Linked DNA regions of Homo sapiens. The protein of the gene in region 1 binds, or shares a complex with, the protein of each later gene. Each region holds a gene or a part of one and is shown in the gene's direction. Other genes may lie near its edges.

Region 1 (7,033 bases):
GAATATAATAGCAGTAGGGGTATAAGTGGGAGGTAGGGAGAAGTTGGCAAGGGTTACCTCGTGAAGGAATTTGATTCTAAGAGTGGTAAGAAGTCACTGAAGGATCTTAAACTAGAGATTCAATTTATACTTTAAAAAGATCATTTTGGATTTTTTGTTGAGTATATTATAGTGCAGGAGTAGAACTTACAAGACCAGCTGCAGGCTGCCACTGCAATGGACTGAGATGGGCCAGAAATCGTGATATCTTGTATAGGGCAGGAACAGTACAAATGGAGAAATATAGATGACTTTGAGATGTATTTCATAGGTAGAGTGAATAGGTTAATAGGATCTGCTATGGTGAATTGGAAGGAAGAGCAAGAACCAGGGTTAAAGGGAAAGGTAAAATTAGGATGACAGATTTCTGGCTTGAGCAGTTGGGTGGTGCCATGAGTTAGGGAAGACTGGAGGAGGATAGGTTTGTGATGGTGAAATCAAGAGTTCTCTTTTAGCTACACATATCCAAGTACTAGCTCAATGTCTGGCCTGGAGAAGATAATCAGCTCTTTTGCCCACCACCAAATCTAGCTGCACATGATTTCATTTCATTTCATAATGATGTAATTATTTCAGTCATTGGAAATGGATGCAGTAAGGTCACTGAAGTCAAAAAGTTAACATAAAGTTTGGCAGGTAGCCACTAGACCAGTTTGTTTGGCATAGTATTTGGGGTGACAAAGTTGGTGCAATGTATCATAAAGTGGGGAAGGACCCTTGGGGCACTAGGATTTGTTTCTTACTTTCTTTTTTTTTTTTTTTGAGACGGAGTCTCTGTTGCCCAGGCTGGAGCGCAATGGCGCAATCTTGGCTCACTGCAACCTCTGCCTCCTGGGTTCAAGCAATTCTCCTGCCTCAGCCTCCCAAGTAGCTGGGATTATAGGCACCCGCCACCATGCCTGGCTAATATTTTTAGTAGAGACGGAGTTTCACCATGTTGGTCAGGCTCGTCTTGAACTCATGACTTTAAGCAATCCACCTGCCTCGGCCTCCCAAAGTGCTGGGATTACAGGCGTGAGCCACTATGCCCAGCTAGATCTCATTTTAAAATATGAAAGACCTTTAGATGTTCATTTATATTTGTTTCTGTTCTAGGCTCTGTACAAAATGAGCTAAGTAGCTAAGGTATGTGCATTCCAGGTCATCTGTCTTAGATAATCATACAGAAAGGAAATCATAGACTTTACAGTATATATTAAATAACTACCAGTTGACTTGCTAATGAAAGGGAAAGTTTGTATGAATTTAAAACTCTAGACCAGCACTGTTTAACAGAACTCTCTGTAATAATAGGAATGTTCTATACCTGGGATGTCCAGTGTGGTAACTGCCGCCACGTGTATCTGTTGAATGCTTGAAATGTGGCTAACGTCACTACGGAACTGAATTTTTTATTTTTTTATTTTTTTGAGACGGAGTCTTGCTCTGTCACCCAGGCTGGAGTGCAGTGGTGCAATCTTGGCTCATGGTAACCTCCGCCTCCCGGATTCAAGCAATTCTCCTGCTGCAGTCTCCCAAGTAGCTGGGACTATAGGTGCACGCTGCCACACCCAGCTAATTTTTTGTGTTTAGTAGAGACGAGGTTTCACCATGTTGCCCAGGCTGGTTGCAAACTCCTGAGCTCAGGCAATCCGCATGCCTCTGCCTCCCAGAGTGCTGGGATTACCGGCATGAGCCACCATGTCCGGCCTTTTTTTTTTTTTTTGAGACAGAGTCTCGCTCTGTTGCCCAGGCTGGGGTGCAGTGGTGTGATCTCGGCTCACTGCAACCTCCGTCTCCCGGGTTCACGCCATTCTCCTGCCTCAGCCTCCTGAGTAGCTGGGACTACAGGCACGTGCCACCACACCCTAATTTTTGTTTTTTTTAAGTAGAGATGGGGTTTTACCATGTTGGCCAAGCTGGTCTCGAACTCGTGACCTAAGGTGATCCACCCGCCTTGGCCTCCCAAAATGTTGGGTTTACAGGCGCGAGCCACTACGCCCAGCCTGAATATTTAATTCTATTTAAATTTTTTTTTTTTGGGCCGAGGTCTCTGTCACCCAGACTGAAGTACAGTGGTGCAATTTTGGCTCACTGCAACGTCCGCCTCCCAGGCTCAGTTGATCTCCCACCTCAGCCTCCCATGTAGCTGGGACCACAAGCTAATTTCTGTATTTTCAGTAGAGACGGGGTTTCACCATGTTGCCCACACTGTTGAACTTGTGGGCTCAAGTGTTCTGCCCACCTTGGCCTCCCAAAGTGCTGGGATTACAAGCCTGAGCCCTTGTGAGCCCTTGTGCCCAGTAATTTTTTTTTTTTTTTTTTTTTTGAGATGGAGTCTCGCTCTGTCTCCCAGTCTGGAGTGCAGTGGCGCAATCTCGGCTCACTGCAAGCTCCGCCTCCTGGGTTCACACCGTTCTCCTTCCTCAGTGTCCTGAGTAGCTGGGACTACAGATGCCTGCTACCATGGCTGGCTAAATTTTTGTATTTTTAGTAGAGACGGGGTTTCTCCATGTTAGCCAGGATAGTCTCGATCTGACCTCGTGATCCACCTGCCTCAATTTAAGTAGTCGTGTGTGGCTTATACCTACTGTATTGAACAGTATCTAGGCAATCAACTTGTTAGCCACTTTTCTCCATTTGTACTGTTCTTGTCCCTAAACGAGCTCTCATGATTTCTGGCCCATCTCAGTCAACTGCAGTGGCTGCCTAGCTGGTCTTCTAAATTCCACTCCTGAGCTGTAGCCTACTAAACAAAAATTGAAAGTGATCTTTTAAAAATATTAGCTTGAGCCAAATCAACTTGCTTATGGAATATATTGTCCTTTTTTTTGAGACTGGGTCTTGCCGTGTCACCCAGACTGGAGTGCAGTGGCATGATCAGAGCTGACTGTAGCCTCAACCTCCTGGGCTCAAGCAAGCCATCCTCCCACTTCAGTTTCTGGGACTGCAGGCGCATACCACCATGCCTGGCTAATTTTTGTGTTTGTTTTAGAGACGGGGTTTTGCCATATTGCCAAACTGGTCTTGAACTTCTGGGCTTAAACAATCCTCCTTCAGCCTTCCAAAGTACTGGGATTACAAGTATGAATCACTGTGCCTGGCTATATTTGTCATTTATTTATTTATTTTTTGAGACCAGCTCACTCCTGGGCTTAAGTGATCCTCCTGCTTCAGCCTCCCAAGTGCTGGGATTACAGGTGTGAATCACTGTGTCTGGCTGTATTTGTCATTTATTTATTTATTTTTGAGACCAGGTCTTGCTCTGTCACCCAGGCTGGAGTGCAGTGATGCAATCATGGCTCACTGCAGCCTTGACTTCCCGGGTTCCAGCAGTCCTCCCACCTTAGCCTCCTTAGTAGCTGGGATCACAGGTGTGTGCCACATGCCCAGCTAATTTTTGTATTTTTGGTAGAGACAGGGTTTCCTCATGTTGCCCAGGCTGGTCTTGAACTCCTGAGTTCAAGCAATCCACCTGCCTCGGCTTCCCAAAGTGGTGGTATTACAGGTGTGAGCCAGTGCACCTGGCCCATATTTATCTTAAAAAAAAAATAGATGTTTATCATTTTTTATATAGACTCATTGAAAAAATGACTTTGTGTTCTTCCAGTACATACCATCATGTCTGAGAGGGCAGAGATCTAGACAAGTGTGGGAAAGATGACTTTGGATCAAAATTTTCTTGTGAATATAATGTGCTTATGCGTAATTTAAAGCTGACTGTATTAAAGATACATTTTTTGTCAACCAGATGATTGTTAAATACCTGTGAAGTATGTGTGGCCCGGTCCTATTTCCTCACCTGTTTACAGTGAATCAGACGTCCCAATAGATGTGGAGACGGTCACATCAACGCCTATGCCACTCTATGACAATCAGAAGGCACGCAGCGTGATGAATGAGTGTGAACGGCATGTCATCTTTGCCAGGACTGATGCAGATGCCCCTCCTCCACCAGAGGACTGGGAGGAGCATGTCAACAGGTAGGCTGCTCATCAGGAGGATGATCACTGCCCTGTAATTATTTTGTATCATCTTCATTGAAATAACACTTATTAGGACCTTATTTCATTTGCAGCAACACAAGTCAGAGTGTTCTCCAAAGTCTCACATTATAACTCTCAGTTCACCATGCTGTGTGTGAGCTCCTTGAGAGTAGGGCTTACATCTCAGCCATCTTTGCATACTTCACACTAGGACGTTGTCTGGCACACAGTAGGCATATAATGTTTGTTGAATAAATAAGTGAATTAAATTTGATACATATGACTAGCTCTGTAGTAGCTTCTGTTGTATAAGTTATGATATAGGGGTTACCCAAACTGCAAAAAAATGAAATGTACATTTGTAAGATATTGTGTTTAAATGGTTTATAACTAGGATGATGGAAGTTGTGAAGTCACATGAAAAGCTAACAGATGTTTGAGTGGCTTTTAAAAATAGATTTGCAGGCTATGGAGGGCACACTGAAGCCTATTTTCACGAGTATACTGGCTAGTTTTGTTCCCAAGCTTTCTACTGCCCCCAGGGGACTCAGCACTCCTCTCCTGGTTATTTGTCCCTGTTCATTTGGTAAACATTTACCTAATTACATAACAGCTTTTTGGGGATATTATTTACATACCATACAATTCAGCTATTTAATATGTACAGTCATTGGTTTTTAGTATAGTCAGAGTTGTATATTCATCACCACTATCAATTTGATAAACATTTTCATCATCCTAAAAAGAAACCTCTTACCCATAAACAGTTACTTCCCGTTTCCTCCCAGCTTCTCTGGTCCCTAGGAAGCACTAATTGACTTTTGTCTTTATAGATTTGCCTATTCTGGACATTTCATATAAATGGAATCATGCAATATGTGGTCTTTTCCTACTGGCTTCTTTCACCCAGCATGATGTTTTCAAGGTTTATCCATGTGGTTGCGTGTATCAGCACTTCATGCTTTTTATTGCCAAATGACATTACATTGTATGGATAGCCCACATTTTATTTATTCATTAATCAGTTGATAGATATTTAGATTGTTTTCATTTTTTGGCAATTGTGAATAATGCTATTATGAACATTTGCATACAAGTTTTTGTGTGGATCTAAGTTTTTAATTCTCTTAGTTATATACCTGGGAGTGGACTTGTTGGGTCATATGATAACTCTGTATTTAACCTTTGAGGAATTGCCAGACTGTTTTCCAAAGTGGCTGTACCATTTTACATTCCTACCAGCAGTGTATGAGAGTTCTAGTTTCTCCATATCCTTGCCAACACTTACTGATTTTCTTCTTTTTTAAAAAAATTATAACCATTCTACTGCGTGTAAAGTGGCATCTCATTGTGGTTTCAACTTATATTTTGTTGATGGCTTTTTGTCTGTGTATCCATATATCTACTATATATATAAGGAAATGTTACTTCTTATATCAGGAGTTGGTAGGTGGTAACTTTCCATAATTTTGGAGAACCCTTATTTTATAATAGAGAGAAAGAGGGGTAGAAAGTTTGAGGTGATTGACATGACTTCTGAAGCTGGTTGGAAGTTGGGAATGAGATTGAACAGGTGTGCTTGTGTGATCAAAACAGCAGCTGTTGAGGGAGGAGCAGTTCTGCACCTTGGTTGAAAAAGCTTGTGAAGAAGTTGGTTGGGGTCTTGCATTGGAATTAATTTAGTGCCTTAAGAAGCTCTTTTCTCACGCCTGTAATCCCAGTACTTTGGGAGGTTGAGGCGGGTGGATCACCTGAGGTCGGGAGTTCAAGACCAGCCTGACCAACATGGAGAAACTCTGTCTCTGCTAAAAATACAAAATTAGCTGGGTGTGGTGGCGCATGCCTGTAATCCCAGCTACTCGGGAGGCTGAGGCAGGAGAATCACTTGAACCTGGGAGGCGGAGGTTGTGGTGAGCCGAGATCGTGCCATTGCACTCCAGTCTGGGCACCAAGAGTGAAACACCATCTCAAAAAAAGAAAAAAAAGCTCTTTTGAGCTTCAGATAAAGAAGAAAACTGCTACGAATGAAGATCAACTACTGGAATATTGCTAGAGTCAGTATATTCAGCAAAAGGATTTATCACTATTTTTACAGTTAATAATAAAAAATAACGACGATGGTAATAACAAAAAGGAGCTACCGTTTGTTGAGTGCTTTCTAGGTGCCAGACATTGTATCAATGTCTCTTCAAATGCATTGTCTCTTAATCCTCCCAATGACTCTTGGAGGTATATCCCCCCTTCATCTCTGCTCAACAGGATGAAGAAACTGAGCTCAGGGTGTTTAAGAAACCTTAATTAGGAAGTGATGGAGAAGGATTTTGTTCAAACCAAGCAGCCTGACTCCAGAACCCAGTGTTCTCAACTACCATACCCTCTGCCTTAATTAAGGGCAGTAAGAAGAGATTAAGACCAGTTAGTGGTGGCTGAACAAGGTGGCCTGGTATGGTTATGTATCCCTTTGTGGTATTTTCTACTACCTTGTCCTTTGCAATTTCAGAAAGTACATAGGAGAACTGTGTGATTTTTTTTTTTTTTGTCAGTTTATCCATGGTTATGATTAAGAGGTTTTTGTGGACAATTCATACTTATCAAAGTCATTAGAGACTTAATAATACTATAAATACCAGTTTGTTTCTTTTTTCTTTTTTTTGAGACAGGGTCTCACTCTGTCACCCAGACTGCAGTGCAGTGGCACGATCTCAGCTCACTACAAGCCTTGACCTCCAGGACTCAGGTGATTCTCCCGGGTGGGAACCTTAACCTCCCAAGTAGCTGGGACTACAGGAGTACGTCACCATTTCTTAATTTTTGTAGTTTTTGTAGAGATTGGGTTTCACCATGTTGCCTAGGCTGGTCTCAAACTCCTGGCTCAAGTGGTCTGCCCACCTTTGCCTCCCAAAGTGCTAGGATTATAGGTGTGAGCCACTGCACTTGGCTGAGTTTCTTAATTTATAAGGAGAGATATAACTGCAAAGCATAAGAGACACTGGGGTGGCCTGGCCAGAGTGTCTGTTCTCAGCAGGAAA
Region 2 (7,033 bases), on another chromosome or scaffold:
CTCCCAAAATGCTGGGATTACAGGCGTGAGCCACTGTGCCCAGCTGGAGTAGATGGGATTTAAGCCGGCATTTTTTCTTAAAGTTGTAAGCTTTAAAGAATTGAATAATCTCAGAATAACTTTGAGAAGTTTACTACTTAAGCACCTTCTGTGATGTGATGTTAATTATGACCCTCTTTTTCATTTGTGCTGGAGTGAGCCTGGGTTTTCCTAAGTTTTATGTAAGTCATAAAGCATATTTGTGCCCTTGCTTGGGTCCTCAGAGGGAAGCTGTTTCCTGCCCTTGCTAAGTCTTACTGTAGTGCTGTCAGGCAGTAGGGTACAATTACTCTTCACATGTTGTATTAATCATCTGGCACTGATAATATGCCTCCTTGCATTGCTCATATCAACTACATATTGACATTCAAAAGGGGAGGAGATTGAATTGATGGGAATTATCTGGTAGTGATTTTCGTTTGTCCATGGGAAAAACCCTTTGCATATTATAAAAGTGACTCAAAATATTTTTAACAACTATATTGGTCCAGCTGTCAACTGGTCTATAACACAATGTTTAATAACAGGAATTAGTACTGTCAACTGGTCTGTAACACAATGTTTAATAATATATTAGTAATTAGTATTATATTTAAAGTTAGAAATGGGAAAAGACAACATAGAATAATTTGTGCCACACAGAATGCCATATGCCAGAAAGCCCACAGGAGAAAACTACATAAGCCCTGAAAATCTAGTTCATAAAGAGTGTTGGTTAAAATACAACCCTGGAACAAGAAACTTTTGGTGTTAATAATTATATGAGGCCAGGCACAGTGGATCACACCTGTAATCCTAGCACTTTGGGATGCTGAGGCAAGCGGATCACCTGAGGTCAGGAGTTTGAGACCAGCTTGGCCAACGTGGTGAAACTCCATCTCCATTAAAAATACAAAAATTATCTGGGCATGGTGACACATGCCTGAAGTCCCAGCTACTCGGGAGGCTGAAGCAGGAGAATCACTCCAACACAGGAGGCGGAGGTTGCAGTGAGCCGAGATCACGCCACTGCACTCCAGCCTGGGCGACAGAGCGAGACTACATCTCAGAAACACACACACACACACACACACACACACACACACACACACACACACACACACAGCAATAAGACAGATTCGACCCATATGTATATTGGTGCTTTTATGAATAATGTTTTCTCAGTCATTTATTTGAGTATTTTTATGTTAATGATTCAAATTGTCATACTATAAAGAAGCTTACTGTGGTCCTGTAGGGCCTACCATCCTGTGTTGGTATTGCTCCAAAGATAAGCATTTTTGATTAAATTGGAGATTGCCCTCATTTGGGGCAGGGAGGGGGGTGCTTAGTCCAGTGATTTCACAAGCATTTTGGTCTCAGGACCCTTTTTTAACTCTTAAAATTTGTTGAGAACAGCAAATAAATTGTTTTTCTTATAAACTTTGAGAAATTTAAAAAATATTTAATAAGTAATTCAGGCTGGGCATGGCGGCTTATGCCTATAATCCCAGGAGTTTGGAAGGCTGAAGCTGGGAGTTTGATAGCAGCCTGGGCAACAAAATGAAATTCCATCTCTACAAAAATTCAAAAAATTAGCCGGGCATGGTGGCACACACCTATAGTCCCAGCTACTAGGAGGCTGATGCAGGAGGATCACTTGAGCCCAGGAGGTTGAGGCTTCAGTGAGCCATGATTGTGCCGCTGCACTCTAGCTTGGGTGACAGAGCTAGACCCTGTTTCAAAATAACAGCAACAAATAAATGATTTGTCTTGCACTTAAACTTTTTACCCATGCATGATTTCCTGACATTCACTGGACATTTTATCGTTCACTGGGTTATGCAGATCTTCCAAATGTTACACATTACATTATATGCAATCAAAAATTCACGTTCATTAATATCGTCACAAGTCTGTTAAATCAGAAATGGCTTTTAAAATATTCAGAAAGTCCGAATGTGGCAGCTTAGGCCTGTAATCCCAGCACTTTGGAAGGCCGAGGTGGGCGGATCATGAGGTCAGGAGATTGTGACCATCCTGGCCAACATGGTGAAACCCTGTCTCTACTAAAAATACAAAAATTAGCCAGGCGTGGTGGCACGTGCCTGTAGTCCCAGCTACACGGGAGGCTGAGGCAGGAGAATCACTTGAACCCAGGAGGCAGAGGTTACAGTGAGCTGAGATCATACCACTGCACTCCAGCGTGGCGACAGAGCAAGACTCTGTTAAACACACACACACACATCCACACCCACCAAATAAAATATTGGGAAAATGTTTAAGTTCATGATTGTTGATACAAGTTTTCAAAAACACTAATCTTTGCCTAAAAAATTCAGATTTTATTATTGGCAGCAAATATCGTCAGTGGTCTTCCTTGAAGTGACAGGTTCACTTTGTTCATTTGCAAGGAAATGTCTGCTAGTGAAGCAGGTTTCAAATAATGTTTGTCAGTAGTTCTGCCAAGTAAAAATCGTGTTCCATGAACAAAGCTCTAGTTCATTTTGCAACTCAGTTGTACTGTGCTTTTTCCTGAGAATTCATAAAGCAGCAGAGTGCTTTATGCATACTTTCCCTTTCATCACAAAGAATATTTTTAAAAAATGCACTAAAGGCTCAAGATAATTCATAATTTTTGCTGTTCATCAAGGACATCTTAAGTGGAACTCCCTTAAAAAAAGAAAAACTGAGTGGAGAGTATAATGACTATTAGTATAGTTTGGTGCCTCTTCCTTGATTTGTGCTAATAATGTACCAGCAGTTTTGTTCACCTTTGTTTTTGTACTCTGATTGCAAATGTCAACACAGTGTAAAAGGCAGATAATATTCTAGTATTGCTATGAAAATACCTTTGATTTCACGAACCTCCAAAATAGCCTGTGAGATCCCCAGAAGTCCAGAGACCACACTTTAAAGAACAACTGGCTTAGTTCTTTACGTATGTTTCCTTTGGCTCCCAGACCACATAGATCAAGGGGGATCAAACAGAGGCAAATGACTGAGATTTTTAGCTTGGTTACTAAATAAAAGCAGTGTCATTACTTAAGGTAATGAAACAGGATGCGGAATAGTGTGCTGGAAGGAGAAAGTGAATTCTGAGCTTCAGGGGGCTTGAGGAACATAGAGGTTATAGGAATCTTGATTAGTGCAGCTCAGAAGTTTTTCTTATGGTTAAGAAACCTCACCATACTAGTGGTTGTTGAGAGAGAAGAGGGCAGAAGGGACCTTGTGCAGCACCAGCATTTAAGGGTCCAGGAGGAAGAGAAGAGGATGATAGTACAAGGACATCAGGAAAGAATTAGAAGAAGGTCGGTATTGTCCAGTGCTTCAGAGAAGTCAGATAGAATGGGGACTGAGGTTTGACCATTGGATTTGATAATAAGATTACTGGTCACCTTTGCCAGAGCAGTAGGGGGTGAAATCCAGATTATGGAAGAGTGAAGAGTGCAGAGACAGTTATTTATACTATTCTTAGAGAAGTTTTGGGGTAAAGGGAAAGAGAGATATTTGGGCAATTAAGTATGAGAGAGAGGCTGTACTGAGGGCAGAAGATACTTGAGTAAATTCCTAGGCTGAGAGGAAGAAGCCAGTAGAGAAGATATTGATGACCACTTTGATCTGAAAGAAAAGAAAACTGATGAAACAAGTTGGTATTACAGATGTGGTACAGTTAGCTTTGTAGTATAATCTATACTTCTAGAGAAGTGAGAAGCTGATGAAAACTGGATTCCCTGGCCAGAAAAATGCACAGACCTGTGATATTTGGCATACTTTTTTTAGTGAACACGGGAATTCCTTACTAATTTTTTTCTGTTTAATTATTGCTTAGTTTGATGTGTCTTGCTTTAAATCCATTTATTTCAACAAGCTTAAAGAGATTTTTTTTTAATGGAGATGATTTAATTTTAACAATCTGTGATTTTCTCTGAATCGAACTTGTGTTTTGGCACCTTTCAATCTGTGGTAACAAATGACAAGAAGGGTGCAATTCTTCCTTCCCTTGTGCAGGGATTTTGCCTCCCCCTTTCTCCCAGATGAAAGATATTTGGGTCTCTAGAATAACTGTGGTACAGTTAGCTCCAGAGTGTTTTCTTTCTGGAGGCAGTTTAGACAACAGCCTCAAGTAGTGCTTTTGTTAAAAATATACATGTTTTTAAAAGTGCTTGTATTTCTAATATTCTTTTCTCCTTTCTCTTCTAGTCTGTTCTCTGGGGAGGCAGTAAGGGGCCGTGGAGCTGGCCTCGGCCTCGGCATCGGGAGAGGCTGGACTTCCTGTCTCTCTGTGCTGAATGGCTGCGATGGCGCCCGCTCTCACTGACGCAGCAGCTGAAGCACACCATATCCGGTTCAAACTGGCTCCCCCATCCTCTACCTTGTCCCCTGGCAGTGCCGAAAATAACGGCAACGCCAACATCCTTATTGCTGCCAACGGAACCAAAAGAAAAGCCATTGCTGCAGAGGATCCCAGCCTAGATTTCCGAAATAATCCTACCAAGGAAGACTTGGGAAAGCTGCAACCACTGGTGGCATCTTATCTCTGCTCTGATGTAACATCTGTTCCCTCAAAGGAGTCTTTGAAGTTGCAAGGGGTCTTCAGCAAGCAGACAGTCCTTAAATCTCATCCTCTCTTATCTCAGTCCTATGAACTCCGAGCTGAGCTGTTGGGGAGACAGCCAGTTTTGGAGTTTTCCTTAGAAAATCTTAGAACCATGAATACGAGTGGTCAGACAGCTCTGCCACAAGCACCTGTAAATGGGTTGGCTAAGAAATTGACTAAAAGTTCAACACATTCTGATCATGACAATTCCACTTCCCTCAATGGGGGAAAACGGGCTCTCACTTCATCTGCTCTTCATGGGGGTGAAATGGGAGGATCTGAATCTGGGGACTTGAAGGGGGGTATGACCAATTGCACTCTTCCACATAGAAGCCTTGATGTAGAACACACAACTTTGTATAGCAATAATAGCACTGCAAACAAATCCTCTGTCAATTCCATGGAACAGCCGGCACTTCAAGGAAGCAGTAGATTATCACCTGGTACAGACTCCAGCTCTAACTTGGGGGGTGTCAAATTGGAGGGTAAAAAGTCTCCCCTGTCTTCCATTCTTTTCAGTGCTTTAGATTCTGACACAAGGATAACAGCTTTACTGCGGCGACAGGCTGACATTGAGAGCCGTGCCCGCAGATTACAAAAGCGCTTACAGGTTGTGCAAGCCAAGCAGGTTGAGAGGCATATACAACATCAGCTGGGTGGATTTTTGGAGAAGACTTTGAGCAAACTGCCAAACTTGGAATCCTTGAGACCACGGAGCCAGTTGATGCTGACTCGAAAGGCTGAAGCTGCCTTGAGAAAAGCTGCCAGTGAGACCACCACTTCAGAGGGACTTAGCAACTTTCTGAAAAGCAATTCAATTTCAGAAGAATTGGAGAGATTTACAGCTAGTGGCATAGCCAACTTGAGGTGCAGTGAACAGGCATTTGATTCAGATGTCACTGACAGTAGTTCAGGAGGGGAGTCTGATATTGAAGAGGAAGAACTGACCAGAGCTGATCCCGAGCAGCGTCATGTACCCCTGTGAGTAGACCTCATGCATGATAGCATTCTTGAGAAATGTTGGCACAAGGAAGAATGAATGAATCGCCATTATGGAGAGAATGTGATTCTTTGTACATAGGTGTCTAGGTTCTGTTTGTTTTTTCCCTGATGTTGGGTAGATGAGTGCATATACATGCTAGTGAAGAAGGGGAAGATACTTTTGCTGTAGGGTTGTATTGTTGTAGTCTAAATGGTGGTAATTTCCTTTTGAAGTCTAAGAAAAATAACTAGGAGACATCTTATGTGTAAAATTGTACTAGTACCTCTTTAAGAGTGAATTTAGATTTCTTTTGAAACTATATATAGGACATGATAAGTTAATGGCCTGATTGTTGAGATTTTGTTGTTTCCAGTAAGCAGGGACAAATGCTGAGTTGACCTAGTTACCTTTGTAGGAAATTACAGTTGCTTTTGATTGAACTTTCAGCAGAGAGCACACCCAGTCTTCAATTTTAACACTTGAGATTTTCTTACATTTTAAGGACTGACAATTAGAAAATGCTTCAGAATATTTAATACATCGCCTCCAAGCACAGTCTAGTTTCACAACCTGACTCTCTTCCTATTAAAAAAAAAAAAAAGCCCATTTTAAGCAGATTTGTTAAGCTGAGTTAAATGTATTGATGTATTTGGAATAAATTCTTACTGGGTTGTTTTTTTTGTTGTTTTTTGTTTTGTTTTGTTTTGAGACAGTTCCGCTCTGTCGCCCAGGCTGGAGTGCAGGAGTGCAGTAGTGCGATCTCAGCTCACTGAAGCCTCTGGCTCCTGGGTTCAGGTGATTCTCGGGCCTCAGCCTCCCTAAGTAGCTGGGATTACAGGTACCCGCCACCAAGTCAGGCTAATTTTTTTCTTTTTTCTTTTCTTAAGTAGAGACTGAGTTTCACCGTGTCGACCAGGCTGGCCTCAAACTCCTGACCTCGTGATCCGCCCACCTCATCTTACTGGTTTTTCTAAATCTGTTGGTTTGAGAAAATTTTACATAAGCTTTTTATGGGTGGCACTCCAAATTGGCATGGTGGAGACAGAGACGTTTCATTCCTGTCACTCCCAATTCAGCATCTATGTACTTAATTAAATAAAGCAGTACTATATTATAACATACTTAAAGATACATGTTAAATAAGTGCATTTATCTCCTTAGGAATATCAGATTTGAGAGAGAGCATGAGGAGTTGGAAAAGAGGGGCAGGATAATTGACTAGCAGATCTTTCATTTTCTCTTTGCTAGAGGCTGGCTTACTAGAGAAGGCTGAAAAAGATGAATATGTGGGAAGAATTGGTGTTTCCTTGACTGTATTAAAAGGTGATGAAGATTTTCACTGGAGTGTTTGGTTGTTGAGACAGCTATGATTTTTAAAAGTAAATTTTCTGGTTTCCCAATTTTGTTTATATTATCTGCATGGATATTGTATC

What was found.
Region 2: KANSL3 (region 1) and KANSL1 share a complex: the UniProt entries of both Homo sapiens proteins name them as parts of the NSL complex.

Annotation. Positions count from the first base shown.
Region 1 is NC_000002.12:96,628,280-96,635,312, reverse strand, and holds part of KANSL3 (KAT8 regulatory NSL complex subunit 3), read left to right. Parts: intron 1-3,769; exon of another isoform or gene 3,770-3,830; coding exon 3,831-4,001; intron 4,002-7,033. UniProt on the Homo sapiens protein: Non-catalytic component of the NSL histone acetyltransferase complex, a multiprotein complex that mediates histone H4 acetylation at 'Lys-5'- and 'Lys-8' (H4K5ac and H4K8ac) at transcription start sites and promotes transcription initiation.
Region 2 is NC_000017.11:46,169,421-46,176,453, reverse strand, and holds part of KANSL1 (KAT8 regulatory NSL complex subunit 1), read left to right. Parts: intron 1-4,221; 5' UTR 4,222-4,310; coding exon 4,311-5,599; intron 5,600-7,033. UniProt on the Homo sapiens protein: Non-catalytic component of the NSL histone acetyltransferase complex, a multiprotein complex that mediates histone H4 acetylation at 'Lys-5'- and 'Lys-8' (H4K5ac and H4K8ac) at transcription start sites and promotes transcription initiation.